Linked DNA regions of Homo sapiens: region 2 is linked to region 1. Evidence: fine-mapped expression QTL. A gene starts in region 1. The other region holds a variant in brackets. All regions are shown on one strand. Distances are from middle to middle.

Region 1 (15,694 bases):
CAGTTAGCTATGATTGGGCCCCTGCAATTCCAGCCTGGGTGACAGAGAAAGACCCTGTCTCTAAAAATAAATACATAAATAAATTTTAAAATAAACCTTGTATCTCTTTTAAGAGTATCCTATGGAATCTAAAACTATAAGTTGATACTAATACCATCCAACAATGGAAAACATTCATGAATAAGCTCTTTAGCATTACAAAAGTAATTCTTCTTCTTTTCTACTTGAGTCCTATTTCTAGTCTATTCCTCCATAGACTTTTATCCTAATATAATACATTTTATGGTTGAATGTCTTCTGTTAACACCATCGTATTTATTCAAAACAAAATATGCTCATAATTGTAATTCTTAACATTTATCTCATTTCCTGAAGTTAGAAAGCTCTAGGATAAAAATTCTTTGAGTTATCTTTATGATTATTATCAGTACACATTTTATCAAAAATCCATAAAAACATTATAAATATTGATAATCATTAAACATAAAAAGTAAAATTTAATGGAAATACATCTCTTGATGAGAAGAATAATGATTTTGCTTTTTCTATGGTTTTAACAAAGATAAATGTTTATACTGGTGAGAACGGCAGGGACTAGGGATTACCTTATTTAAAAATTTTTTATTCATAGGAGGTAGAAAATGGTAAGAAAATGGTTTTAACAAAGATAAAAGTTTACACTGGTAAGAACTGCAGGGACTAGGGGTTACTTTATTTAAAAATTTTTTTATTCATAGAGATAGAAAATGGTAAGCATTTTATAGGATGAAATAAAATGAAAAATCACTTTAATTACAAAACATTTCTTAATTGCTAAAATAGGTTTTAATTACTACCTTGAATAACACATACCAAAGCTGAAAGAAATTCCATACAAGTTTTATCTTTGGATTTTTATCCAAAGTTATCATGAAAATTTTGGCAGTTCCCAAAAATATTCCAGTTACATTGAAAAAAACCAAAATCACCCTTTCTGTTTCAGCTGATCAAGATGTTTTTATTTCCGGTAAATGACACATCCTAAGAAAGTACTGAGCATAGCTGAAAAGAAGTTCTTCTACTTATACAGAAAATAAAAGCCCAAGTACTTAGTGCTGAGTATTTCTTACCCCCTCTCTTTCTGTTTTCTCTCCCAGGACACTTCCTCATTCTTGAAAATGGGCTGGGGAAGGAAGAGGTGAAAGTTTTCATGGTCATCCCCCATGCCTTTGTCCTTATCACCATCATATGTCTGAATTGAGAACATCTTAACAGGGCCCCAAATACTCAATTCTAAAAACCATGCTTGACCCTTTACAGGAGTATGTATAAAATGGGAGACACAGAATGTCCTGTAGGTTTATGGGGCCTTACTTAATCCCTCAGGAGACAGGGATCATCTGGAGCTGAGCTGGTTCTCACCCAGGGCCCCTGTTCTATTGTGAGATTTACAATGAATGCCTTGGTCAAGTGCAAGGAGAGCTATTGTGAACTCAGGAGTCGTCAGGCAAATCGGTTGCAGGAAAAAGTATATATGGAATTGAGGTATCTAATAATTCCTAGTAGATTCCTAACACCAACCATTTTAATGGTTGATGCCTATGTGCCCTCAGAAAGTCCTTGAGTACGTGGGGCAGTAGGGGCGGGTGGGGTGGGGTGCTTGCTTGGCTTGAAGAACACTGTGGATGGAATTTCTGATGTTTTACTTCTTAAAATGGGTGTCTGTTTTATTAGACTTTTTTTTTTTTTTTTTTTTAAGACAGGGTCTTGGTCTGTTGCCCAGGCTGGAGTGCAATGGCATGATCTTGGCTCACTGCAGCCTCAAACTCCTGGGCTCTTGGGCTCAAGCATCCCTCCAGCCTCAGCTTTGCAAGTAGCTGGGACGACAGGTGTGTGCCACCACACCAGGCTAATAGACTATTAGGCTATTTTAAATTATTTTATATATATATAATTTTATATATAATTATATATGTGTATATATATTATATGTATTTATATATATATAAAATTGGTTGGGCACAGTGGCTCATGCCTTGTAATTACAGAACTTTGGGAGGCAAGGCGGGTGGATCACCTGAGGTCAGGAGTTTGAGACCAGCCTGACCAATATGGTGAAACCCCGTCTCTACTAAAAATACAAAAACTAGCTGGGCATGGTGGCAGGCACCTGTAATCCCAGCTACTCAGGAGGCTGAGACAGGAGAATTGCTTGACCCAGGAGGTGGAGGTTTCAGTGAGCCCAGATCACGCCACTACACTCCACCCTGGGCAACAGAGTGAGACTCCATCTAAAAAAACAAACAAACAAAAATTATATATATTATGATATTAATAGACTATTTTTGTTTAAATTATATATATTATACATATGATATATCTCTCACTAAAGTTTTAAAAAATCTACTACATCTATTAAACTAATAGTCTATTTTTGTTTAAATTATATATATGATTACACATACATATGACATATCTCTCACTAAATAAGGTTTAAAAAAATCGACAAAGTTCATGGGGCAGTGTTATTTGAACGCTGTAGCCCAGGAAGTTTCGGTTTATAGGCATTGTAGGGGAGGAAGGATTTCTTTTCCTCACTCATTACTAGGTTCATGGCTGAGGCATTTATAACAAAAGGCAGATCAACAGGAGAAAAGCATCTGCATTTATTTAATGTAAGTTACACATGACACAGGAGCCTTAAGAAATAAAGACCCAAAGACACAGGGAAACCTGTGTGTTTTTATGCTTAGGCTTGATGAAGTGGATACTCCTGTGGAAGTGTGATTGGTCAAAGGGCGTCTGATCTAATGGAAATAAACTGGGGGAGCTTAGCAAGGCACGTGCGTTCAGATTCCTCTCTGTGTCCCTGTGTCTTCTCCCAGCTTCAGGGAGGGCACCTCTTGAATGAAGGTTTTATGACCTGCTTCAGCAAAGAAAGGTGAAGGGAAAGTGAGAGTGACCTTCTGCCTCTGTCATTTTCTCAAATGCCAAGATGCTTTGTTGGATATGATCTGAGCTCTATCAGTGTGAGAATTGGAGGAAAATGTAAAATGTTCACAACTAGTAGGAGAATTTCTTTCAGAATGGTCTTGTTTATGGAGGGAAACAATAAGCTCCTTTAGGGGCTGGATTTTAAGCAGCTTGGTAGGCAAAGAGATAGGTTAGTAGTTTTAAATTAAACATGAAAGAATTTAGGTATAGAGGAAAGCAGAGGGGAGTCGGGAGGAGAATAGGGCGGGAGGGAGTAACCAAGGAACCTAGCTGGGGCTGCACCTATAGAGAAAGGAGAAAGTGCAAAATTTGCTAGTAGAAGGGATGCCGAAGCATCTTTTAGAAATAGTGACATCCATTATGGAATGTTAAGGCTTTTGAATGTCTGCAACATGGATTCCCTGGTCCTTTTACGTCTTCAATATATGGTCACACACAGATGCTAAATGTGGATGGAGGGAAAGAGAGAAGCAGGTGAGGACCCAGAAGGACCAGGAACAGGGGTCTAGATGAGAGAAATGCCCAGGCATTGGTAAAATCTTGCAGCTGGCATAGGACTTTGCATACAATATACAATCTTTGGCTTGGGTTAATTTATCTGAATTCCACAAGACAGAGTGGCTTTGGTGGGATCTAGGATACATATGTGTCTGCACAAGCAATATGCAAAATATGCCTCTGTCAACTTCAACTTAATAAATAAATATGCTAACCAAAGATGCTAGCAAATGAATATGCTGAAAAATGTCTTGAATTATTGGTAGGTATAAAGTGAGATAATTCTCCTTTACTGTGTTTAATATTAACGGAAATAACTTTTAAAGTATAATGCTCAAAAGCATGTAAGTGATTAAGTTGGCTCCCCTCTGCCTTCTCTTGCAATAAAAGACTCTAAGCAATAAAGGTTTGAATGCTACATGCAGAGGTTGAAAAAAAAGAAAAAGCAATAAAACGAGTCCAAAGTGGGTAGGGTTAGTTCTATTTTTGGCAATAACTCCAATGTGGTAGGACATAGGCATTATGCTTTGGTCTGAATGCATGCCCCCAAAATTGTTATGTTGAAACATAATCTGCAATGCCGTAGTATTAAGAGATGGGGCTTTTGGGAGGTGATTAGGTCATAAAGGCTCCAGCCTCATGAATGAGATTAGTGCCCTTATAAAAGCGGCCAGAGGCTGGGCACGGTGGCTCACGCCTGTAATCTCAACACTTTGGGAGGCCAAGGCGGGCAGATCACCTGAGGTCAGGAGTTCAAGACCAGCCTGACCAACATGGAGAAGCCCTGTCTCTACTAAAAATACAAAATTAGCTGGGCGTGGTGGCACATGCCTGTAATCCCAGCTACTCGGGAGGCTGAGGCAGGAGAATCACTTGAACCTGGAAGGCAGAGGTTGCAGTGAGCTGAGATCTTGCCATTGTACTCCAGCCTGGGCAACAAGAGGGAAACTCCATCTCAAAAAAAAAAAAAAAAAAGTACAAAAATTAGCCGGGTGTGGTGGCAGGTGCCTGTAATCCCAGCTACTCAGGAGGCTGAGGCAGGAGAATCACTTGAACCCAGGAGGCGAAGCGGAGGCTTCAGTGAGCTGAGCTCGTGCCACTGCACTCCAGACTGGGTGAAAGATCAAGACCCTGTTTCAAAAAAAAAATAGTAATAATAAAAATTAAAAAATAAAAAAGCCCCAAGGGAACTTGTTCACTCCTGACAAGTGGGGACACAGGTAGAAGGTGCCTTCTTTGAGGCTGAGAGCAATGCCTCACTAGATACTGAATCTACTGGCACCTTGATCTTGAACTTTCCAGCCCCCGGAACTGTGAACAATAAATTTCTGCTTATAAATTACCTAGTCTAAGATATATTTTTTTTCTCTTTTGAGATGGAGTCTCATTCTGTTGCCTAGGCTGGAGTGCGGTGGCACGATCTTGGCTTACTGCAACCTCTGCCTCCCAGGCTCAAGTGATTCTCCTGCCTCAGCCTCCAAATTAGCTGGGATTATAGGCACCTACCACCATGCCCAGCTAATTTTGTATTTTTAGTAGAGACGGGGTTTCACCATGTTGGCCAGGCTGGTCTCGAACTCCTGACCTCAAGTGATCCACCTGGCTCGGCCTCCCAAAGTGCTGGGATTACAGGCGTGAGCCACCTCACCGGCCTAGTCTAAGGTATTTTGTTACAGCAGCCCAAACGAACCAAGACACATTATCATCCAAGATTTGTAGCCAGAAGCTCATCACTTCTCATCTTCTTCCCTGTTACCATCCCCACTCCTCCCACTCCAGTTTCTTGTCTGGAGTCCTGAAATAGCCTCTTAATTGGTTCCCTTGCTTCACTCTTTGTGTTCCTCACTGTCTGTTCTCAACATGTGGCCAGAGTGATTTAAAATATATATATATAAACCAGATATAATATATAATCCTCAGCTCATATCCCAGCAATAACTCCCATAGCAATCAGAGGAACAGCTCAAGCCATTTGCAATGGCCCCAATCTCCCGTGGGCTGCCTCCCCATACCTCTTGGGTTCATTTCCTTTCTCTCTCTCCTCAGTCACTCTGCTCCAGCCTTACTGGCCAGACAAATGTTTTTCCATTTTGCCAGGCCTGCTCCTGTTTTAGGGCCTTTGCTCTAGATGGTTCCTCTTTCTGGAATGTGCTTTACCTAGAAATCTATTTGGTTAACTCCTTCACCTCCTTCCAGTCTTTGATTAAATGTGGCCTTCTCAATGAGGCCAATCTTGACCACCCTATTAAATAATGCAACATATGGGCTGCAGTATTTACTCTGCTGTGCTTTTCTGTTTTTCTATGCACTTATTATCATCTAACATCATAATATTATTTTAAATGTTTTTCATTGATGTCTTTCCCTGGCAGAGTGTAGGCTCTGTGATGGGAATGATTTTGTTTGTTAATTGATGTGTATCCCAAACACCTAGAACAGTGTTTATAAATAATAGTTCTTTAATAAATATTTGCTGAACGTTGAGTCCATTTTCATAAGCAAAAGCACTGTTTCCCGAACAGTAATCTGGGGAAGGTTTCTTCTAAAGGATGTACACAAAACAAATCCTGTGGTCAGCTAAGTTTGATGGCCCCTTCTTTGAAACTGACATGAGTGCTTATTAGTAGATTTTTTTGTGATCTCTGTGAACATCAAAACTTACTTTACAGGATACTCAAGGAGATCAATCAATAATGATGGAAAAGTGTTTAAAAATGAAATGAAAGTTGCAGCAATGATACATTAGGAGTATAAGAAGAGAGCCTAATGAATAGGGGCAAATACCTATTTTAGTGCTATAAATAACATTTCACTGTACACTCAGCATTTAGGGCTGGCCAGTCTAATGTGCTGACGGAAGCCCACACAGACTCAGAACAACAAGCTGGGTCATGAGGACTTAAGTGAGAAGAGAAGAGACAGTCATGAGTTCAGCTGGCTGCATTGATTGCCAGGAAACTATCCACCCATTCATTCCAAAACATTGTTGTGCTTGGTACTATCATTGGCCCTGGGAAGTGGGCCGCAGAACAGAGTGAAAAGTAAGGGAAAAATACAAGAGTTGAGGGAGATTCCAATTGGTCTCCAAGGCAAATATAAAGTCTTGGGTCGAGGGGTTAACACTATGCAGCTCCCTGAAGCCTAAGGTGACAGTGGCCTCAGCAACAACACCCAAGGTGGAGTTAGGGTAGAGGACAGGGAGGGTGGGGCCAAGCACCTCCCAATACCCAGCGGCTCCAGGGCATTAGGCAAAGCCCCAGCTTGCTCTTTTTTCTTACTGCAGCCAACCATGGAATCTGGGTAGCACAGGTTTTTGTCTGTCTTTATGTACTCAAACATTATCTTCAATCACACTTTGCTATTCATAGGACACTTTGGCAATAGTAACTATTTGGAACACAGTCAAAGAAGTAGGAGGTATGGAAAGTGCCTCTGAAACAATGGCGTGGAGGATAGAATGGCTTGGAGTTTATCTGCTTAAAATAAAAATACTTTACTTTTTTAGGAGCTCCTTAGGCACTCTGCCAAAGCCGAGTGACTCTACGGCAATTCGTAGAGCTCCCCAGTTCACAGGGGAACCAAAGTAGCAGGCAAGGCAGGGACAAGTGAAATACAAGAGCAGAAGGGGAAATGGAAAAACTAGAAAGTAGACACAGTAGTTGAGAAAGTGTACCTCTCTGGGCATAGTTTAGAGCAAGGACAAACTCTTTTTTTTTTTTTTTCTTTTTTTGAGACAGTTTCACTTTTGTCCAGGCTGGAGTGCAATGGCACGATCTCGGCTCACCACAACCTCCGCCTCCCGGGTTCAAGTGATTCTCTGGCCTCAGCCTCCCTAGTAGCTGGGATTACAGGCATGTGCCACCATGCCTGGCTAATTTTTGTATTTTTAGTAGAGACACGGTTTCCCCATGTTGGCCAGGCTGGTCTCGAACTCCTGACCTCAGGTGATCTGCCCACCTCAGCCTCCCAAAGTGCCAGGATTACAGGCGTGAGCTACCACGCCCGGCTGCAAGGACAAACTCTTGATGTGTCAGTGGACTTCAAGACATTGCTGTATTGCAGGATGGGTTCTTGTTCACAATAATGCCTGAGTCATCAGTAATGATTAAGCTAAGATCACTAACTCTGTTTTAGTATTCAGGGTCACGTGCAATGCATTTTAGAAAGATCTCCCTTGCCTAAAACTAAGGCAAAAATGAAACATTAGTGCAGAAAGGGTAAGCTTCAGTTCTTTTATGTTTTTTGAACAAAATCTCTCCTCCAGTTCTTAGACCTGCTGCAAGGGATCATTATTCTTATTCCTATTTTACAGAGGAGGAAGCTGGGCCTTCATGAAGTTCATTGATTTGCTCAAAGTCCCCAAACTAGTAAAAGGCAGTACTGGTTTTTCATACCCGGTTGTTTTGCTCTAAAGGCTGAGTTCTTGGCCTCCTGGCCTCAGGACATCTTCCTACTTTGGCCTCCCAAAGTGTCAGAATTGCAGGCATGAGCCACTGCACCTGTTAATTCCTGGTCTAATACAGTATTCTTAAGCAAAAAATGCTATAACATAGCAGTCATAGCTAAATCTGGCAGATGTTCAGTTATATTAGTTTCTTCATTTTCTGAACATGTACAATGTTTAACTGTGATCCCAAGCTTGGAAAATATGTTGGGTAGGCAGGTTGCAATATATGTTCCAAGCAAACACACATCAGTTGAGCTAAAACATGAAGGAATACATCATTGATTGAAAAACATAAATTACCTGAAGCTTTGTGGATGATGCTTAAAGAAACTGCTCAGAAAACAATGGTGATACCTATCATGGGTCAATTTTGACCATTCTTCAGATCAGCTCTCAAATGTTAAGCCTGGAATTTAATGTCCTATGCAGGCAACAATTTCTGCTATTTTCCTGAAGGAAAATAGTATTATACTCCTAGTATAATAAAAAGTATAATAAAAAGATTTCTGTATAGTTAAAAAGAACAGTAGAATACCCAAGTTTGAACCCTACACTTGCTGTTTACTAGATGGATAAGCTAGCTGCAATTTATTAGAAACAGTATTCATTTGAATAAAAATTGAGATGACATGATAATACAAATGATAATAACACCTGCCCTTCCAACTTCATAGAGTTGTTGGGAGGATCAAAGGGGATAAGTGAGTGTGCTCTGTGAATATATAGTATCATTACATTAATATGTAGTATTATTAAAATGGTAATTCTTTTTTTACATGGGTTATATCATTTCAGATGGCTTAAATTTAGTTTTATTGGTGATTGTTTTTGGTTGAATATAGACTGAAGGTATCATTAGAGTTTTATCTCCTTGAGGGATTATACCTTTGTAAACTTTGAGGATGTATTTAATTCAGTTTTGTTCTTTGATTATCAGTTATGTTGTTTGATTTGATTTGGTATGTGAAGTAGGAAGAATGGAAAGTGCCTCTGAATATCCATGATAGAATGGCATGGAGTTTATCTACTTAAAATCAGAATACTTCACTTCTTTAGGAACTCCTTAGGCACTCTGCCAAAGCCTAGTGACTCTACAGCAGTTTGTAGAGTTTTTATTAGTCCATGGTAACATGCAGCCCTTCCCAATATGCTAGAATCTTTTTCAGGTTTTTTTGTGCCTGGCTTTAATTTTTTGACCTGTCTTCAGGATGTGCAGTGGATCTCCTGGATAATGTCACATTCTGAGCATGGTTCCATAGGGAAGATTCATAAAACTGACCTTGATATCAAGCCTCACTCTACTGCAAATAGAAAACAGGAGAGACAGCGTGTCTGTGGCATCACCCCTACCACCTCATTTTGAATGGTAAATGTAATGTCTCGTCTACAAAAATGACAAGGTTGTATCAGGTGTGTGGGCTGGCCTCTTGATAAAGAGAAAAATACTATGTTTTAGAGGAGGCAATGCATAATGAATAAAGAGCCCAGGCTCTGGAATCAGACAGACACATTTTACTTAACCTCCCTAAATACAACCAAGTCACTTAAGCTCCCTTAACCCCAGGTTTCACATCTATAAAATAGATTCTTATAACTACCACAGGATTATTAGCACTGGTAAATGAAACAGCTTTTGTAAAGTGATTTCTAACATATGATAATAATTATTGTGAACCTACAGTTGACAGAGGATGGAAATAGAGATACTGATGAAGGAAAAGAGCAATGTGTCCATGGTGCCGCTGTTATACATCTTGGACTCATATAAACAACTTCTTCAAAGTGTGTTTCATTCATCTGTAGTGTAACAGAGCTACTCTCTTGGTTCTGAGTTATCCAACAGTAGTATTTTTTTTTGCATTAATTGTACTACAGTATCAAGAGAAAAGAACTATTAAGTTCTGTGACATTTTGTTTATAAGCTCTAACCATAGTTACTACATTTTTATTTTTATTTTTTTTTTTGATGGAGTCTTGCTCTGTTAGCCAGACTGGAGTCCAGTGGCGTGATCTCTGCTCACTGAAACCTCCGTCCCCTGGGTTCAGGCGATTCTCCTGCCTCAGCTTCCCAAGTAGCTGGGATTACAGGTGCCTGCCACCACACCTGGCTAATTTTTGTTTTTTGGTAGAGATGGGGTTTCACCATGTTGGCCAGGCTGGTCTCGAACTCCTGACCTCAGGTGATCTGCCCGCCTCGGCCTCCCAAAATGCTGGGATTACAGGCATAAGCCACCGCACCCGGCCATTTTTAAAAGAAAAATTTAGACTAGGTTATGAACTGTGTTTTGTTAGGGAGAAAAAAACCTGTGTAAGGCTAATACATGTATATATTTTACATATACATATATACATATGTATATATCAAACCTGTGTTATATATATATATAAAAACTGTGTAATATATGTATATATAAACCTGTGTAAGGCTAATATATGTACATATAAAACTTTACATATATAAATATATTTATATATGATTATATAAATTAATATATTTATAATAAATATATATACACACGCACACACACACACATATATATATATGGCCTATGTGAGGACTATTCTTTGAAGTCTAAAAGGCATAGCTTTGTGAAAATTATAAAGGGTCTGAGGCACTTGCTCCAGAAATACTTCCCAAACTGACCTACTTCTGTTTTCCAGCAACTCATATCTGAGTGTTGATTTTTTTTTCCTTTTAAACAAAGCTCCGTCTGCTCTCATATACCTCACTTCAGCTGTCATCTAGCTCCAGATAAGATGAATGTTGCTCCAATGCTGGTCATTTTCCAGGACTCTATGATATTAAATGAACCTATCTAGCCTAGTGATCCTCAAGTATATGCCTGTGTGCGTGTGTGCATGTGTCTGTCTGTCTGTAGTGTGGGTTTGCTTGTGAGTGGTAGAGATTATCATCTGGTGGTGACATCTCCATTCGGTTAGCTTGTGGGAGTGGTGGTACAGACTTTTTTTTTTCCTCCTCCACAGGGGACATAGGTTGAGAAACTCTGGCCTGGCAATTTAATGCTCAGTGCAGTTTGATGGTGATAAAACTCCTGAAGAAGGCAAGAGTGAGGCCTGAGTCTTGGAGAGTAAGTTGTTGCCAGTGCCTGACAGGCCTTCGGTTTAATTTGAAGCTGGAGGCCACATTGATAAAGTCGGCCCCGAAAGTCATTGCCTGTCTGATCGAATGCCGGTTTACCCAGCGGAGGCTGGGGGCCACGTGAGCTCACTTTCTTTGGTTTTCTACCCAGCAGCCCAGAATATTACCTTCCTGAAACCCTTTTTCATCAGCTAGCGATTCCTGAAAAGGATCTTCAAGATTTTTATGTTTCTCAGAACCTAGCAATAACTTGGAAAAGTTTTCCAAGTAACATTGATGTGTGGGTGTTCGGGGGCAGACAAGTTAAGGAGCAAGGCACCCTTTTTGAGGACCCGTGGCATGCAAATGACTTATCAGAATGCACATAGTATGACAGTAAACACCGTTTCTTACAGAGGTGAAATAACTCTCACTCCACAGAGACGGAAGTGACCCGAAGCTAGCAGTCCCCTGTATTTGCTTGTGTGACACCGAACATGTCAGATCAGGGTGTAGGAAACTATGCCTAGCGCAGAGGAGGGTAAAGGAAGTAGGGAGTCTGGTGGCTGCGGCGCTCCAGCTTCCAGCCACCGGCAGAGGAACCCTCTACGGCTTGAAAGGGAAACGCAGCCACTCAGCCGCTTCGACTGCGGCGGCGAAACCAAAACAGGGTGGGGCGGGGTGGGTGGTGCTCTCTAGTGGAAGGCGCCCGCTGGGTGAGGTCGTTTTGTCTGGCGGGGGGCTAGGACGGTCAGCCCGGGAGGAGGAAAGGCGCGTCCCGCCTCCAGCTGCAGGGCCAGGCGGCGGCGCCCGCTGGCGTCGCTTTCCCTCTCCCGGTCGGCCTCGGTGCAGGCCAGGCTGGGCGGGCCGGGCGGCGCTTGGGGGCCGGGCTCGGAGTCCCCACTTTTCCTCCCTCCTTCCCTCCTCTCGGGGCCGTCCCGAGCGGCCGGGCCAATGGGCGCGGAGAGGAAGGGAGCGGGAAGCGGGGCGCCTTGGGCCCGGCCCTCCTACGGCGCCCGTGGCTGCAGCGCCAGCGCCAAAGCCAAGTTTGCGCCTCGAGAGTTTGCGCCTCGAGAGTTTGCGCCGGTTCGCATTCCCCGGCCTCCCGTTCGCTCCCCCGCGAACCAGGCGGCCGTGCGCCTCTCGGGGCAACCACCCAAGAGCACCCGGGCGGGAGGACGCCGAGCAGGGGGTGTTGCGGGCTGGGACAGGGGCAGCCACCTCCCGAAGATGCAGGATGGCAGCAGAGCCGCAGCCGTCCAGCCTTTCCTACCGCACCACGGGCTCCACCTACCTGCACCCGCTCAGCGAGCTCCTGGGCATCCCGCTGGACCAGGTAACTGCAGGCCGGGAGCGCAGCGACCCCAGCTCCCCAGCGATCGCGTGCACGGGGCGGGCGAAAGTGTTAGCCACCGTCCCTCCGCCTCCATGGCGTATTTTACAGCCACACACTAGACAGTTGGTTTTTGTGTGTGTGTGTGTGTGTGTGTGTGTGTGTGTGTTTTCCCTTCTTGAGTTGGTGTTAGTGTTTTTCTCCTTGTAAGTGTGAAAAAATATTGGTACAGCCTGCGCGGCAAGTTCTACTGAACTTTTTTTTCTTTAAGTTTGGGATTGCCTCGTTTCCTGTAATCAAGTTCTGAAGTAGTCTGATACATGAAACCAGTGTTTCTTTCATCAGTGTCCTCAAGTCGTTATTGTTTTTAATTTAGATGACCCTACTTAAAAAACAAGCGCGATGAATCTGTAGACGGTAGTCTATAGATTTTGAATGCAGGACCTGGGTTTTAGACTTCTGAGGCGAGGCTTGTTCAGGGGTGACAGTTATTTTGTACCGTGTGTGATGCGGGACACACAAGGACACTTTGGTTTTCCCAGGGTTCGGTTGGCTCATATGCCTGGGGCTGGAGCTTCTGAGTAGGACAGGTTAGGGGGAGGAGAGGGGCCCCAGTGAAGTTATTTGAACTGTCCAGGAATTATCTACAACCATTAAAATTAAAAATGGCAACAACAGTGATTCCTGGCAAGAAACCTTCCTGAAGATGAAGCCCGTCTTACTCATTTCCTTGTCTCTTCAGGTGCTGCAGGCTAGATCTGCGGGATACTTAGTAGTGACCCAATCAGTAAATGTTGATTTAAATAGAATTGGGCAGGGCATGCTGGGGGAGGACCCACTGCGCTCCTGTTTTGTTTCATGCTTTTTTGCCTGGTTTTCTTCCCCTTCCTCTCACCAGTGCTCCTTTTCCTTTCCTTTTAACAAGAGCACACCTGCTGCCCTTTGCGCACACCCCTTCAGCAATGAGAAAGTGAGACCTGGACATTTGCCTTATTCGGGTCCTGTTTACTGAGCCACCCTCATACCTGGCTCACTCTGAGGACCTGACTGAGAACTCCACCTGATGTGACCATTGCGTTCTCATCAGTTGCAGAATACAGAAAGTCAGAAACTTGGGAAGGGTTTCGGTGCCAAAGCATTTGTGCTTTTGTAAATTACTCTTTAGTTTCTGGTGAGGATGAGATAGACCCAGGGACCCAGGCAGAGGCGGACATAATAGCAAATTCTTTAGTTCTGAAATTAAATAAAACTCATAGCTGAATTTCCTTAAGGGGAGTTTGTTTTGTACTTACCTCTCCACTCCCTATCAGAAGGTATTTTAATTGCATTTTCTCTTCTAAGCTCTTCTACACAGCTAGAAAGACTCCAGGAAGGCTTTTTGTATGGCTAAAGGACCATGGCAAGTTATGGCTGGGAGGTGCTAGAATAATGTTTTTAATGTCTTTCAATTGCATCCCCTACTTTCCTATAAAGGTAATTCTGGTTTTAATTCATAAAAAGGAACAAAAGAGCCTTAGGAATGTTTAAAACTGGGAGGGAGGGAGGGAGGGAGGGAGGGAGAGACTTCTGGGATAAACCGAAGGAGAAATGTTTGCCATGGCCAGGAGCACCTGAGATCTCTTAGCTCTTAGGTCAGTCTGACCACCCTCCAGCAGGAGTGAGTGTGGATGACCCTTGGTGGAAGAAGCACTTAAAAGGCAGTGCCCCAGGTAGCTTATTTTAGGCCCAAGGAAAATCCCCAAACCATAAATAAGGTCGTTTGAGGCTACGTTGTGGCTTGCGAGTTTGGAAGCTTTGTGTGTTTTTTCCCTTTCACATTTTTAAGGCTTTTTAAAGGCTTAGATGTCAGACTGACCTGGGTGCAATTCCAGTTCTGCCAGCAAACTTCCCTTTGTGACTGCCAGCTGGTACTCTACCCTCTTGGAGACTCAGCATCCTCATGTAAAATGGGAGATGACAATAAGACCTACCTTTTGAGGTTGAGAAATTTTATATGATGTGAAATGCCCGACATTAGGAAGGTTCTTGTATCAGGGTCCTTGCAGGAAACGGGAACCAACCCCATTGGCTGAAATGAACAGACTTTAATGAATTACTTAGAGGGGTATGGGCAAGTTTAAGGGAATCAACAAAGGATGTTGAGATGCTGAGATCAGAAGTAGGGGGCAGCTGGAGGGGAAAGTGGAGTTACTTCATTGCCATTTGTGAGAGCTGGACCTGCCTGGAGGTCATGAAGAATCAGAGAGAGAACCTCAGCCCTTCTTCCTACCTTGTAGCCCTTCCATCTCTTCACAGTGGCCCCCAAGGCCTCAGCCTGCAGGGGCTCCTCCTGTGGCACAGGATAGGGAGGATAAAGGTGGAGGCAGATCTAGGGAGTAACCTGAGGATAAGAGTGCAGGCCTTGATACGTGTTTGCTCCTGTCCCATTAGAGAGTGACTTTTGATTGGCCTGGGATATGCTCAAAATTATAAAATATATATCTCAAGTTACTCAAATAGTTTTTTGTATGCCTCTTAAGGACACTGAATCATTTCCTAATGTCTTAACATCCTAATTCCTGATTAATTGCACTCCTGTGAATGTCTTTAGCCTCTGGATCCTGTGTCAAGTAGTTTATTATCAGCAAAAATGGAAATACCTGGTAAGCATTCTGCTTCGTATGTGAAGAACTCTTTATTCATTCTTTTTCATCTGATTCTTCCATTTATCTGTTCTGTTAACTTCGTGGCATCCTTAAATAGGAAAGCCTGTGTGTGGTTAGGACTATACTCAGGAAAAGTCTATGGTTTTTGTTTTAGGGATTTTGATTAGTCTGACATCCTCCTAAAGATGTGAAATATAAAATTATCTCCCTTAATTAGAGACAAATAGCGCATAATAATTCAGATGCAGAATACAGGAAATGGGATGATGACTTAGGGGCCTCTATAGATGCTTCAAAGATAAGGTTGTTGAAAACTTTATTTCTAAATAATGGGCCCTTGTCCAGTGAGCAAATATGGAGTTATGGTAGGTGGTAGGATTATGCCAATAAAAACCTTCACTTAGGATAAAGTGGGCAAGCACTTTTCTTTCCTGTTTTGGGGGAATCAAGGAATCATCTGCTCCTGTCCTCCTCACTTTGTTTTGGTTGTGGAGTGTAACTTAATGTGCCTTTAAACTAAAGGTTTGCAAGACTGACTCAGTTGCCAAAACAGATATGATAATGTTGATGTTAGTAATTTGTGTAGTGCACAGTTACGTCATTATGTCCTAGGAGCTGTGAAAGCTGAAATGGAAAGTGTTTCCAGGCTTTAAGGAACTTCCAATTTGGTGGTTGGAAATTCTGCCCACCAGCAAAGCATTTTTGGGGTATTTCACCTG
Region 2 (15,970 bases), 120 kb after region 1:
CCGCCACTACGCCCGGCTAATTTTTTGTATTTTTAGTAGAGACGGGGTTTCACCGTTTTAGCCGGGATGGTCTCGATCTCCTGACCTCGTGATCCGCCCGCCTCGGCCTCCCAAAGTGCTGGGATTACAGGCGTGAGCCACCGCGCCCGGCCGGGAGTATTTTTATAAAGCCTTTTTGTACAGATTAATCGGCCATGTCCAGGTTATTGGTTTTGATATTTTATAGGACATTTGAGTGGTGTGGCGATGTGTAGAGAATGTGCCAGAGCTGCAGAGACAGTCCATTCTGGGCTGCTGGCTTTTTGCCCTTCCTGCATGATTTCCAGCTACTGTGACCTGGATGCTGGGAACCCAGGCATCGGCTCCAAAAATTAGAAGGCGAGTGCTGAGAAGACTTGTCACAGGTTTCTCAAATCAGAATATACTCAGTCATAGTGGTTCCCTGGGAAGCCCCAGACCCTTTGACTTGTGACATTACTGGTTTGCAGACATAATAACTACACTCAGAGGACCATGGAGGCAGAGGGATCATGGTTTCAGGGCACTGAAAACTCTACGAGCCAAGAGGACTAGTGCATGGACTGAAAGTCAGGCATGCCCTCAAATAGGCTGTATTTTCTTTCCAGGAATGTAACCTTTCCCCTTTTTCTTCTGACCTGAGCCAAGATTGGAAATCAGAAAGTCTCCTGTACATGGAGCTGAAGAGGGGCTGCTGTTTTCCGAATGTTTTCCATTTCACAGGCGCCACCTGCTTGCCCGGGGTTGGTCTTGAGAAGACACCCAAATGTTCATGCCTCAGAAAGGCAGCAGAATGCCTTTTAGGAAATTTTTTTAAAGTAATTTGAAGTTATATAGAAGTTTGGTAAGAAGAAGCAGTTGTTTCTCTCTTTTCTCCCTCATTTCATGGAGGTGTTAATGATCATGGCTGGCCGTGATGTACACATGGGCTGATTTTCATTTTTTCAGTTTCATAGCTGAGAAATTCAGCTTTGTTTTAGTTGAATCATCATATTGGAAAGCAGACATTGAAAGTTTTCTTTTCTATCTTTGTTATGAATGTGCTATGGCCCCTTTTGGAGACTTCTATTGGGTAATATTCTATGTGAGAGAAGGAAACTTGGTATTAAATGTTGTGGAAAATAATAATGATGATAATAATAAAGTATATGCTGCAATGGTGTACTGCCAATCAGATTGCTTGGGAGAAGAAAATTTATTCAAATCCAACGATAAAAAATTAATTTCTTATTGAATAAACAGTATGTTCCCATATAAAAGAAATGTTTCTGATGGGAATAATTGCTTTTTGTCTGTGTCAATAGAGACACAGGTCCATAAGGTGTCCTACTGCTGCTTCTCTTAGGATAGTGAAATGTGAATGTGATGTGCCTGTTCCTCTACAGCATGTAAACAGTCCTGGTGCTGGGGGAGAGTACTAGAACCCAAACTTTAGTCCTTATTTGGGACAGTGGAAGTTAAGAAGTAGTAGATGTGAGCTAGTGCATGAGTCTCACCCCACTTTAACAAGGAAATCTTGGGGCAACCCTACTTCGCTGTCCCAGGAAGAATCTTAGATAGTGGGTAGGGGAAGGGGGTTGTAGGTATCTAAAATCTGTCAGAGTTTGTCTCCACCAAGAATAGTTTGAGGTACGAGACCAAGAAAAATGTACATCTTGCAAACTAGCAAAAATGGTAAATATTACCATTGGTGTGGAGTATGTGGAATAATCATATTACAGTGAAGTCTTTGAATTTACAATGTGATTGATGATCAGGTTTCACTGTATGTAATGTAAGTATCCTCATGTCTGAAAGAAGAACTTGGTAATGAGAGCAGAGGTGTCTGCTTTGGTGACCAGCTGCCCTGGTTTGCCAAGGACTCTCTCAAGCCCTCAGTCCTGGGCAAGCTGGGGCCATTGGTCCCACTAGTGACTGCCCAGAATTGATTACTCCTTATGGGATGAGGAGAAGTCAAACCTCTAGGAGTTGAGCTTATGGATGCTATATGTCAGACTTGGTGTTAGGCCCTGGGACACAAACATGAGGCTTTATTCTGTATAAAAAGAACAACACATAGGAGACTGATTAGCATCCTTTTTCTTCTGAAAACCACTTACCCATAGAAAAAGATTTCAACTGAGGACCAACATTTAGACGGAAGGTTGGGACTGTTTTTATTACCTTAGATTTCCAAGTTGTCCTAAATATAAGATGCAGTTCATAAATACTTATTGGAATGTGAGCTTTCAGTTGAAAATAAATACACTTTCTGGTTTTGTTTTTGAAAAAGCCAAATCTAAAATATTGCAGTTGTTTTTTTTTTTTGTACTTTGAAGGTAACTATATGGAGCAAGAATATTATTCAGATATTATTCAGTGGTTGCAAAAAGCAATAAATAATTCAGTCTGAGATTTTGACTGGCTAAGAGAGAAAAAGGCGGGAGAAGAAAACTGGAAGAAGAACAGAGGAGTTAGCAGGTGACCCCCAGAACTGGTGCGGCGTGTGTCCCTCCATTACTCTGCAGGCTCCCAGACGGTCCTTTTCAACTCCCACTGCACATTGGAACCACACAGGAAGCTTAAAGAAAGTGATTGATGCCTGGCTCCTCCAGGGACCACATCTTTTTTCTCTTCTTGTCTCTGGGATTTGGCATAGTGCCTGTCCTGTAATGAAGATTCAGTAAGTGTTTGTTGAATGAATGAGGGATTGAATGAATTAGTTTAATGCATCATTGCCCTTGACAGTTTTGACTGAGTCACTTTTGCACTGGGAAACATCATTTCTGCTTTTCAGAATTAGTTTCCGAAATAAAGGCTTGTGTTTTCAGGGAATTCTGAAAGTACATTACGTGATATAATTACTCAGGCAGCCAGTTTACATAGTCTGAACCCCTCTGGTCCACCCTTCCATTAATTAATGCATTCACTTATTTATCAAATGTGTCATGTCTGGTGTGGGCCTGGTACTCTGTGAGGCACTGCAGGTAAAAGATGCTGAAGTCCCCCATTCTCTGCTCTTGGAGAGTTCACGATATGCCCAGAAAGACATGATCCGGAGGAGTGCACAGTAGGAGTGCCCAGGAGAACTCCAGCATTCAGAAATTATAAAGTGATGGATTGCCTGATTCTTGTTTTCTTAGAGTGATCTCATTTTACAGTGTTGAGAGTTACCCAGGACAGCAGCATCACTGCTCTCCAGCCTCATGTCCAGGTGAAGTTAAGCTTGCCCTTGTGCTGAAATTGGGTATTGAGCTTGCAACATGTCAGTGCCAATCAATGCAGCAGGTACCCAGTGGAGCAGACTGATCTCTCATGGTTCCCCGTAGGGGTAGTAGGGTGGCCAATCCCCCTCCGGAGGGATCTTTAGTGAAGTTTGCAGACTTAGTGAAAGACTTCATGAAGCTCCAGAGGAAAGGTATTTGCTTAGAGAAGGTGCAGCCCATGTGAGCTTTGTCTAATGCGCTAAAATTATCTGACGCTACTTACTCTGTGCTAAGACAAAGAAAACTAAGTTATTGGCAGCTACTTTCACATGCATTCCTAACACAGTCTGTGAACTTGGCAGTATTCTCTTTTGCAAATGTGGAAAGCAAGTAGCCAGTAACTTGACGACAGTCATCCAGCTAGTTAGTGGAGGAGCTGAGGTTGGAATCCTGGTTTGGCTGACTCCAGGGTCCATCCCACCACCTGGTGCAGAGCACGTTCATTTTCAAAGAAACGGAGTTTTAAAGCTGGAAGTAACTCCAGCACTCACCTGGTCTAGTGGTTTCCAAATGCTGACCAGCTGGCCTTGTCACTTGGGGAGCTTGCTAAACACGCAAGGAGTGGGGAGATAGATTTGCTGTTAAGTTGCTGATGGTCACCATTCCCTTTTCTCAGGGGAACGGTGTGATTGATATCAACGTGGGATAATGGTCGTGTTACCATAACCTTCTTCCCAGTGGTTAATGGTGATTATATCCTGGTGGAATGGGGAGGTGAGAGCCTAGCTAAATTGTTTACATCAAAAAGAAGGCCTTTTGGAACATCTGTGATTGCTTTGTGTTCCTAAAAGACCTTTTGTTTAACATGGTTCTTTTAATGCATTTTGAGATATGCGAAGTTTGGCCTAGATTTTAAGTAGCTGGTATATGTAAACTTTGGGGAAATTGGGCAGAGACTACTCAGTGGAATAAAGAGATGGCAGAAAATTGGGGCCTGAGGAGAAAGGAAATTCCCAGTGGGTGGCCTGGTCAGGGAGACCTTTAAGAATA[G/A]GAAGGTGGAGAATTACTGGATTCTTACGTAATGTTCCCCTCTACTACCATAGCTGGAGACACATTTCATCTTTAAAAAGAGAACTAAACCTGTTTCTAGTTTAGGCTGGCATTGGGAGGAGATAAGAGAACAGACTAAAATATGCCCAGCAGTAACCTAAGCCTCCCTCAAGAATCAATCTCGAGAAATACAAAATACTAGCCATGGGGTTGGGGAATGGAGCTATGTTCTCCATTATTTGAATTTCTAAATCCAGGGGCATCTTATAAAGCGGTAGACCTTAGGGATCCGCAGGAAACAGATGCCCTCACAGATTTTTGATTACAAACAGACTCCTGGGTCCCACTCCCCAGATATTCTGATTCAGTTGGTCTGAAGCCATGCCTGGGAATCAGTATTCTTAACGAGCTTCCCACAAATTCTGATGTACAGCCAGGTTTGGGAAGTACTGGCTTCATCTTATTTTTTACATTTGAGGAAACTGAGGCTCAGGGTGGGTGGGTGGTTTAATGTCTTGCCCCAGGCATCACAGATCACTTCTGTAGCAGAGATGAGGGTGGAAGCACCTTCTCTTGACCCACTAGGGTGTACTTCCCACAAATAGCCATGCTTTCTCTAAAAAACACCCAGCACGGTGGGTCTCAGAGGAGCCCTCTATCTTTCCTGGGACATTTTCTCAGCTGGGAACACCCTTCTTAGGCCTGAAAATGAGTGTCCAGGTGAGGTGGGTGTTTCCTGGGGACCTATAAGTCTGCACTCTCCGAGTGTGGGTTGGCCTCCGATCCTACGCAGCCTCACAGACAGTTTTATTGTAACTGCTGATCCAACCTGTGGAGGCAGACGGGGAACAATTTTCTAGAAAAAAGCCTTTCTGTGTCCACATGGCCCTCAGGATCCAATGGCCCCTTTTGTTCTCGAACAAAGAAAATTCATAGGGGATATGCACTTTTGGCATTACGATTTACACTGTCTAAGCAGTTGCTGGCTACAATCAATCGTCCATTCATCCCTGGCTTTCTTTCGGTCTATTGTCTGCTTGATGGGCAAAATGGCCTTTCAGCATTTCCAGCTGCAGTCCCAGGTTGCAACTGTCTCTGTGTCCGCTGGTCTGGAAAAGCCACCAGATGCTGGGACAAGTTTTCTGCATGGTCACTGGTAACCTTTTCCCTCCAGTCCTCCATGCTGCTGCCTGGGACTCTTCCTGGTGAGCCCTTCAGGATGCTCCTCTTCATCAAAACTCCTGCCAGCTCCTGCTGTCTACACCATAAAACCCATGCCCTTCCCTTCCACCCTCACCAGCCTGGGTTCCTGGCCCTCCTTTCAGGCAGGCAGCTGTTCCATATGCAGCCAGCGTTTGTGACTTGGTGCCTTTGTAACTTTAAGTTCTGCTGCCTAAAAGAACAACATTTTTTGAATAGGCACTTCCCAAAGCAAAAAGGGCAGAAGGCCTTTTAGACAGAGAAAATGTGCCGTACAAGTTGCTATTTTTCCTGTGAAGTCCTTCTCACTTCTAGCTTCTGCTCATAGATCCCTGATAACACCTTGTGTTGTGATTAGCTTGATGTCATTTGTCCTTCCCCAACCAGATTGCCAGGTGCCTGACAACTCATTTCTTCATACCTGGCAAGTCTCTGACTCAAAAGGGTATTGGATCAATGTTAGTTGAACAAATGAGGGAATGAATGAATTCCATTAGCCATGGCAGGATTTTCTCTGGGATAATGAAGAGGGGCCATCTCGGATAGGTGGGTTGAGTTTGGGGTTCTGGCCCCTGCATTTAGTGACCAGCACTAGAAATGGCCCTAGTGAAATTGAGCCTATGGCTCTCTATTTCCTAGTCCCTTAAAGTCCAGGCTTTCCCTTGATGGTGGTGCTCAATCAAGTTCTCTGGGCCTCTAGGATTCGGGTGGGGTAAGTCCAGCATGCTGGAACGAAGTTCCTACGAGTTTTCCATTTCCTGGGAGTCCATACTGGACTTCCGTCTTTTACAGCTTTTGGTAGTTAGTGGTTCTGTTAGAGACTATGTAGTGTCTCATTGTCTGTATAACTGAGAATGTATTCATCTGTGCTCCTCCCGATGAACTGGCTAGCCCTGCCATAACCAAGTACCACAAGCCGCATGGCTTAAACAACATAAACATTGTCTCATGGTTCTGGAGGTTAGAAGTCTGAGATCAAGGTGTCAGCAAGTTTGGTTTCTTCTGAGGCCTCTCCTCTTGGCTTGTGGCTGCTGTCTCCCTACTGTGTCCTCACATGGTCTTCCCTCTGTGTGTCTTGTCCTAATCTCCTTTTTTTTTTTTTTTTTTTTTTTTGAGACGGAGTCTCGCTCTGTCACCCAGGCTGCAGTGAAGTGGTGCAATCTTGGCTCACTGCAACCTCACCTCCTGGGTTCAAGGGATTCTCCTGCCTCAGCCTTCCAGGCAACTGGGATTACAGGCGCCCGCTACCATATCCGGCTAATTTTTTTGTATTTTTAGTAGAGACAGGTTTTGCCATGTTGGCTAGGCTGGTCTCAAACTCCTGACCTTAGGCGATCCGCCTGCCTTGGCCTCCCAAAGTGCTGGGATTACAGGCATGAGCCACCATGCTTGACCATCTCCTCTACTTATAAGGTCACCAGTCATATTGGATTAAAGCCCACCCTAATGACCTCATTTTAACTTATTTACCTTTTCAGAGACCTTGTATCCATTCACATTCTGAAGTCCTGGGGGTTAGGACTTCAACATATGAATTCAGGAAGGATACAGTTCAACCCATAGAGACCTTTAGTGGTTCTTGCTGTTTCTGTGGTAATAAACTGTGCTATGGTGAACGTTCTTTTGTATTTCTCTGGTGACAGGGTGGACATCATGCAGTGGCATTGCAGGATCTTAGTGTAAAGAAATGCACTCTCAGCTTGCTCGGGTGCTCTTGTTCTCCAGCTGGTTGTATGCGTTTTTTCTTTCCCCAAAATGTGTAACAGTTTTTCTTTGTCCACATTCTCATCAGTACTTGGTATTAGCAGACTCTTATGTTTTGCCAATTGGATCAGTGAGAAAAAATGTATAGAGAAATGTAATTCTCAGGCCAGGTGCGGTGGCTCATTCCTGTACTCCCAGCGCTTTGGAAGGCTGAGGTGGGTGGATAATGAGGTCAGGAGTTCAAGACCAGCCTGACCAACATGATGAAACCACGTCTCTACTAAAAAATACAAAAATTAGCCGGGCATGGTGTTGCACGCCTATAATCCCAGCTACTCAGCAGGCTGAGGCAGGAGAATTACTTGAACCTGGGAGTCGGAGGTTGCAGTGAGCCGAGTTTGTGCCATTGCACTCCAGCCTGGGTGACAGAGTGGGACTTGTCTCAAAAAAAAGTAATTCTCCCTGCTAGGCCTACCTTCAGCTCTCTGTTTTCATCATCTGGATGCAGCCAGTGTTATCTTCTTATGTGGCCTTTCAGAGAAATTCTGTGCCCTGCATCGAGCTTTTCAAGTTGTTGCAAATGTTTTACATCATAAGCATTTCTCCATATTATTGCAGAAACTTCCTAAAAGTTGTTTTTGATGGCTGCATAATAGTGTGTAAATAAATGTGCTATAATTTTGAAAAGCAGTCCCCTAATGGTTGGGCATTTGGTTTCTGCTGCTTTATTTAAAAAATATATTCCTTTTAGAAAAATTTGAAAATACAGAAAAGGAATAAGGCATCTATAATCCCAGCCCCTGTTGGCATTTTATTTCTAGTTTTTGTGTTGAAGGTTTGTTTTGTTTTGTTGTTTTATATTTCTGGTTGTTCTTTGGTATCGGCATTTATCTGTGGAAAAGTCTAATGCTTCCTATAGAGTTTGGAATTTTAATTTTCCATTTAACTTTACAGGATGAGAATGTCCACATGCCATGAAATCTCCCGTCTCTTTCTCTCCTGCTCTAATGAGCATAGCAAGGAATGAAATCCAGTGAAGTTGTAATGGGGGTTGACTTGAATGCGGTTAGGTAATTTATTTAATTTTAAGTGGAAAATCACTTGCAAACCTTAACTCTTTAAACTATTGCTAGTAAGAAATGACTTTTACATATTGTATAGTCCATCACAATGTGGAGATTGAGGCCTCCTTCTCTGAACCGTTTAACCCTTTGCCTGGCGAGTGACTGTTTGTTTAGCCTCTCAGTAAATGGGATGTATTTGTTCTTCCTAAGAAGTTAAGGTGGCGATTGCTGAGCATTCTAAGCATTCAGAGTGTGAATGAATGAATGAACAAATAAATGAATGCTCGACTTCCTAATTCAACATGGAAATCACCAGAAATTCTTGATTAATTCTTCCCAGCTTTAGAGCATTCAGCCTCAGGCTTCATTTAAAGTCTACATTTTTTGCGGTATCTCTTGAGGTAGATTTAAGAGAAAACAAGGAAGTGGTCCCAAAACGTATGCAAAATAACTAAGCCTTTCTCAATGATGAACAAGAAATTCCCTCTGTCCAAAGGATCTAAAATTCTTGACTTGGAATGGGATTTTTCTGAAGTGGTGTGAAATATGGACCTTTAAGGCAAAACAGCTTTTTTGGCCTATAAAGTTGAATGATCCCCAAACCCACCAAGCAGCTTCTTTTTATGAATGAGCTTCCTTCCTTCTCAGCCCCATCAAACTTGAATGGCTAATTGATGAAGATTATTTATCAACAATTTCAATAAGAAATGTTAGGAAGGGGAATCTAATAGAGAATGCCAATAAAATACATCAAACTCTAAAACTTTCTAGGACTGTTAAAAATCAATCTACAAGCATCAGTTGATCTCATGAATAAAATATTTCCATCAAAATAAATTTGAAGTTTATTTTATCAATGTTAAATATAGCTGAAGTTGAAATATCAAGCTTGGTTAACATTATTTTGGTGTATAAAAACTTTTAAGAACTTGAAATGATGATTTGCAAACTGGAGTCTCATGATACTTAAAAAAAAATACCAATAAGCCCAGGACAGCCCTGAACTGAATAATTAAATGCATTAATAGCTTATGTAAACTCACTGCAGTAATTTGAACCTTATTCCCGGTAAGGAAGGTGTGAGGCAAACATTTCAAGAAGAAAGCACTATTTAAAACCCCAGTGTGCTGCCTTTTGGATGTTGCTGAATCACTGTTTTTTTGTGAATCTGAAGCAATGAGAGAGGTAGAATTACAAGAAAGTGCTGAGAGAAAGCTTTGCAAACAGAGCAGGGTAACAGAGTAGTCAAAGTGTCAATCCTGCCTTTGTTTTTGCTGAGAAGTCCCTGGAAACAGGTGAGTGATTGACTTCTTGATTAATGCTTCCCAGCTTAAGAGCATTCAGCCTCAGCCTTCATTTAAAGTCTACGTTTTGCAGTATCTCTTGAGGTAGATAGACTTAAGAGAAAACAAGGAAGCAGTCCCAAAACACATGCAAAATAACTAAGCCTTTCTCAATGAGGAACAAGAAATTCCCTCTGTCCAAAGGATCTAAAATTCTTGACTTAGAATGTGATTTTTCTGAAGTGGTGTGAAGTAGTGACATCTTGTGGCCATGTGAGGTAATTTCTGATGATTTCCATGTTGAATTAGGAAGTCAAGCATTCATTTGTTCATTCATTCATTTGTTCATTCACACTCTGAATGCTTAGAATGCTTAGCAATTGCCACTTTAACCTCTGGTTTTTTTTTGTTTGTTTGTTTTGGAGATGGAGTCTTGCTCTGTCGCCCAGGCTGGAGTGCAGTGGTATGATCTCGGCTCACTGCAACCTCCGCTTCCTGGGTTCAAGCGATTCTCCTGCCTCAGCCTCCTGAGTAGCTGGGACTACAGGTGTGTGCCACCATGCCAGGCTAATTTTTGTATTTTTTAGTAGAGACAGGGTTTCACTGTATTGGCCGGGCTGGTCTCGAACTCCTGACCTCGTGATCAGCCCGCCTCAGCCTCCCAAAGTGCTGGGATTACAGGCGTGAGTCACTGTCTGGTGTTTCTTTTGAACAGTAAATGATAGTCTTTCGGAGTAAAGGTCAGATTTTAATGACCCTATTGCTATAGGGTCAAATAATGAATTGTTTCCCTGCCCTGTCCTCTCTCCACTGTAGGAAAAAAGCACACAGGAGGGTGTGTAAACTCCAAGGAGCAGAGATGCTGAAGGCAAAATAGCTTCATTTAAGGCAAATTTCTGCCTCTACATGCTGTGTGACCATAAAAAAAGTGAGCAACCGGCTCTGAATACTTTTCTTCTTAGGAGGAATGCTAGCAATTATAATTACTCTTCAGAATTGTGGGGATTAAATGAGTTAAACCATAATATGAGTTATGAAGCTGACAGAATTCTCAAATGATGATATAGTGGAAATAGGTCATTGTGATATGGGGTCATATAAGTTCTTTGGAGATCAAGTTTCTTGTGTGTAAAAGGTGGGTATTAAATAAGCTGACCAGCATGGTTGCTTCTGCTTCTAACATTCCATAATTTGATGTTTTTCTTCACACTCTTCTGAACCTCTTTATTTCCAGTAGTGAGCTTCTCAACACTTATTTTTTGGCCTATAACTTTGTAGTATTTTGTTTCCTAGGTAATAAGTTCTGAATGACTTAAAGGAAAATACAGGTGTTTTATATGTTATCTTCCACCACTGACATTTCAGTTTTATGGTTGGAGCAGTTAGGCAAGTTTTTTTTTGCGGGCGGGGAGGTAGGGGAGCGGAAGGATGGAGTCTCACTCTGTCGCCCAGGCTAGAGTGCCAGTGATGTGATCTCAGCTCACTGCAACCTCCACCTCCTGGGTTCAAGCAGTTCTCCTGCCTCAGCCTCCGAAGTAGCTGGGATTACAGGCGTGCGCCACCACAACCAGCTAATTTTTGTATTTTTTGTAGAGACAGGGTTTTGCCATGTTGGCCAGGGTAGTCTCGAACTCCTGACCTCAGGTGATCTGCCCACCTCAGTCTCCCAAAGTGCAGGGATTACAGGCCTGAGCCACTGCGTCCAGCCATTTAGGCAAGTTTCTGAATTTAGAAAGAAGCACAAACATTCTGGCAAATATTGAAGTCTTCACTCTGTGCCTAGCAGACACAATAAATAACATGCCTTGTTCACACACGGAAGTGTGAAGTAGGCATAGGTTCTCTTCTGGCCCATGGTTACTAGGCCAAGCAATGCAGTGAATTAATCTTTCTAGTTCTTCCTTCCCAGCTCACTTGTTTCTCAACAAAACCTGGGACTTGGATAAAATTCACAGATTGAGTTTATGTCTTACCATCGTGGGGGAAAATATTTCGAAACAACCTATCTTTTAGGCAAGTCTATTCTTTCCTTCCTCCCTTCATTTTTTCTCTTTCTTGTGATTAGTTTTCTAAACACTGCAAGACTAGTTCCAGAACCTCATGAAAAGAGGTGACACTCTATTTCATCCCACGTTTTGTTTGTAATTCAGTTTATAAAGTGCTTTCTCTTACATTATTTCCTTTGTTTCCCAAACCAACAATCTAAAGTTAGTGGAACCAGATGTTACTATCCGTTTTAAAATTAGGAACCTGAGGCCTGAATAACTTGAGTGAGTTTCCCATGGACACACCCACAGTAAGTGATGGCAACAGAATCGAAACCCTGGGCTTTCCCCTAGGACTTAGGTCAGGCGTCGCCAAACTGCTCAAGTTCATTTTAAGAATTATATTGGCAGGGCACGGTGCCTCACACCTTTAGTAACAGCACTTTGGGAGACCGAGGCAGACGGATCACTTGGGGCCAGGAGACCAGCCTGGCCAACATGGTGAAACCCCATCTCTACAAAAAATACAAAAATTAGCCAGGTATGGTGGCACATACCTGTAATCCCAGCTACTCGGGAGCCTGAGGCAGGAGAATCACTTGAACCTGGGAGATGGAGGTTGCAGTGAGCCAAGATCATGCCACTGCACTCCAGCCTGCATGACACAGCGAGACTCCATCTCAAAATAAATAAATAAATAAATAAATAATTATGCCAAAAATTCTTCTTGTGCTACTTGAATAACTTATAACTTGTATTTAAAATTTGTTTGTTTTGGTCATGTAAATAAAATTGGGAAGCAGAAAAAGTAAGAAACAGAAAAAAATTGTTTTTTAAGCTTTGTTAATCTCCGAATGATGGATAATCCCTTTAGAGAGAAGGAAAGGCCGACAGACAGTCTTGGGTTATTTCCCCATATGTAGACCCTGAGATGAGGATTGAATTTAAGTAAAAGTAGTTTGTTTGGGAAGTGATCTCAGGAAGCATTTGGAATGGGGAGGTGAGGCAGGGAAGGGACGGATGCTAATGCAGAGTGCATTGATTAGCAGATGACCACTGTGGGCTCTGGGGCTCAGCACACCAGGTAACTCTGTGAGACTGCACAGAGCACACCTCATTCATTCCACTGGAGAGAAGAGGAGGCTGGGGTGCTCATGGACCAACTCTCGTTTGTCACTGACACAACTCCCAGCATCATAGAATGTCCTGGAGGTAGGAAAAGCATGCTCAGCAGTTGGAGAGAGCCCCTTGGCGCAGTTGTAGAGGATTGCAGTAAGAAGCTGCTGCCTGCACAGGAAACATGAGTGTTGAGAGTATGTGGGCAGGGCACGCTAGCCCTGTCCCCTCTACCCATACACCTGCTCTGCCTGTGTCTTACGTGATTACCGACTGTGATTCACACATCTAGCACCATGCAACATGCTAACGGAGACGCAAAATATTTGTAAGGATCTAGTACCTCTTCTTATCACAATAGGTTGATTGAAAATCCGTGCACACCTGAAAAAGTAGCACAGTAAGAAGGCTTATTGTCAAGTGTCAAAATGAGTAAAGCGGACGTCAAATACTACAGAGGCTCAGAGAAGGGAGTAATCAACTGAGAAGTCTTGCTGAGGAATTTGGGTGGGAAGAATGAAGCTTGAATGTGGGACCAAACAGGCAGGTGTGCCGCATCCTTCTCACCTGTCCTCTATACAATGGGAAGTTGAAAGTTTCCCCCTCCTCTGTCAAATTAATATATGAAGATAAGGCTGGGCACAGTGGCTCACGCCTATAATCCCAGCACTTTGGGAGGCCAAGGCAGGCGGATCACGAGGTCATGAGATGGACACCATCCTGGCTAACACGGTGAAACCCTGTCTCTACTAAAAATACAAAAAATTAGCTGGGTGTGGTGACACGCACCTGTAGTCCCAGCTACTTGGGAATCTGAGGCAGGAGAATCACTTGAACCCAGGAGACGGAGGTTGCCGTGAGCCGAGATTGTGCCACTGCACTCCAGCCTGGGCAACAGAGTGACACTCTGTCTCAAAAAATAAAAAATGATAAAATAAAAGAAGATAACTTAAAAAATAGTTTAGAGGCTTATGAGGGAATGTGATTAAAGGTAGATCTAATATTTTTAAAATAATTGATTAAAATAATTGATTCAAAGTGACAAAGGTGCTACTACTACTACTAAACCAGATGGGTGGGGTACTGTTAAAGTCATGCTTAAAATTTATAGCCTTAAATTTATATGTTAGGAAAGAACAAGGTATGGAAATAAATGATCTAAACTTTCATCTCAGAGGTTAGCATCACGTAAGAAAATTAAACTCCCCAAAAAGTTAGAAAGGAGAGAATAAAGGTAAGAGGAAAAGTTAATGAAATAGAAAACAGTCAATAAAGAGGATCAGTAAGACTGAAAGTTCATTCTTGAAAAAGGAGCAATAAAATTGATAAACTCCTGGATATACTGATTTAAGAAAAATAGATAGAAAACACAAACAACTATTACCAGGTATCAAAAAGGAGACAATACCATAGATCCTGATGCAAACAGGATCCTTTTCAAATGCAAATTTAAAAGATTATAAGAATATCATGAACAGCTTTAAACAGTAAGTTTGATGAGTTAGATGAAATTGACATGTTCTTTAAAAGGTCACAACTGACCAAAACTGACACAACAAGGAATATAAAAATCAGAATAATCTTATAACTATTAAATAAATGGGATCTATAATTGCCAACTTTCCCACGAGGAAAACTTTAGCCTCAGAGTCTCAATGGTGAATTCTTCCAAATATTTAAGAAAGAAGTAACGCTAAACTTTTGCAACTTTTTCAAAGAATAGTAAAGAACAAAGATAATCTCTAATGTTTGAATAACCTTGATACAAAATATAACAAACATTATAAGAAAACTACAGGTGAATCCTACTCAGAAACCCTGAACAAAATATTAATGAAGTGAATGGAGCAATATGTCAAAAGGATAATAAACCTTGCTCAGATTGGTTGATTTTGGGAATGCCAGTTTGGTATATAGCATGCTCACAGAATAAAGAAGAGATATTATAATGATCATTTTAATAGGTACATGACAAGCAATTGGATACATTCAAGATCTACTCAAGATGTTAAAATCCTTGGCAAGTCAGCAATAGAAAGGAGCTTCTTTTATCTAATGAACACACAAAAACCTATAGCAACCAACATGTGATAGTGAAAAGTTGAAAGCTTTTTCCTTGAAATTAGGGACAAGAAAACATGTATTAGAATTACTAGTAAATGCAATAAGGCAAGAAAAAGAAATACAGGAGAAAAGGGTTGGAATGGAAGAGATTTTTTATTAAATAGAGTTTTATAGTTTTATACATAGAAATCCTATAGGAAATACATACAGATAAGTTATTAGAATTGATAAGTGAGCTTAGCAAAATCATGAAATACAAGGTCTATATACAAAAGTACTTCCACAATACATATAAAAGAAAAAAGCAAAAAATCCAGACAAATAAATACATATTACAGGACCCCATTTTATGTAAAGTCCAAAAACCAAGAAAAACTCAGGTATATTATTAGAAGTCATGACAGTTACTTTTGAGGAAGAGGAAGGTGTAGTGATTGGGTGTGGGCAGAAGAGGTGCTTCTAGGGGGCTAGCGCACTCTTTCTTGATCGAGATAGTTTTTCACAGGTGTTCACTTTGTGATAACTGAGCAGTACACTTATGTTTTGCTCACTAATTTACATGTAGGAGAACATTTAACACAATAGAAATCCCGGTAGACCAGTTTAGTAAGCAATAGTATCTATAAATAACATATAATTTTAACTTTAGAAACATTAAATTATTTGAAGGCAATTGGAAGAAAACCAACCAGCATTAATTTATAAGCACAGAATCCACAATCAAATTGTGGCAAAAAGTAATTTTGCCATTACTTTTAATGGCAAAAACCACAATTACTTTTGCACGAACCTAATATAAATAATGAAACCTAAACATGTGTCTTTAACAATTTCTGGAATACTACAGGTGCATCACTTCTTCCATCCTCTCTGGTTACATCTGTGTCATTAGTTATGTAATTATGTATGCATGTGTCACATCTGTGACACTAACGGATTGGTATCTCTGCCTGGAGGAACCTGGGGTCTGAAAAAGGTGCTTGGTAAATTGACCTGGGATTGCAGTGACCTTAGCAGCCTCTTGCTTGGAATGCTCTTCCTGCACACTGCTCTGCCCTTTTCTGCTCCTGCTCCTTCCCCAGTCCTGCCTTCCAGAGGCACCCAACTTCAACTCTGCATATCTTTCTTCAGTTATTTCATCTCCATATTTCTACTTAGCATCCTACTGACATTTTTTCATTTACCCATTTTAGACCTCATTCGTTTCGTTGACTTCCTATTATGGTTCTTTGTACCTCTTTAAACCTCTATTCACTTAACCTTCCTCTACTCTCCTAAGATTCAATATTTACATTGTGTTC

The links.
Region 2: its variant is fine-mapped to the expression of MBOAT1 in whole blood (TOPMed, PIP 0.95).

Annotation. Positions count from the first base shown.
Region 1 is chr6:20,208,775-20,224,468 of GRCh38, reverse strand. It overlaps MBOAT1 (membrane bound glycerophospholipid O-acyltransferase 1), which reads left to right and starts at 12,000. Exons shown (of 13, transcript NM_001080480.3): 1 at 12,000-12,333. The coding sequence starts at 12,235. RefSeq lists an enhancer at 10,972-11,472 and a silencer at 11,655-12,194.
Region 2 is chr6:20,086,016-20,101,985 of GRCh38, reverse strand. MBOAT1 (membrane bound glycerophospholipid O-acyltransferase 1) reads left to right here. Exons shown (of 13, transcript NM_001080480.3): 13 at 1-2,302. Among named protein-coding and RNA genes, the nearest start is that of MBOAT1, 120 kb to the left of the region's middle. RefSeq lists an enhancer at 9,290-9,793. The variant G/A (reference allele first, on the strand shown) is at 4,254.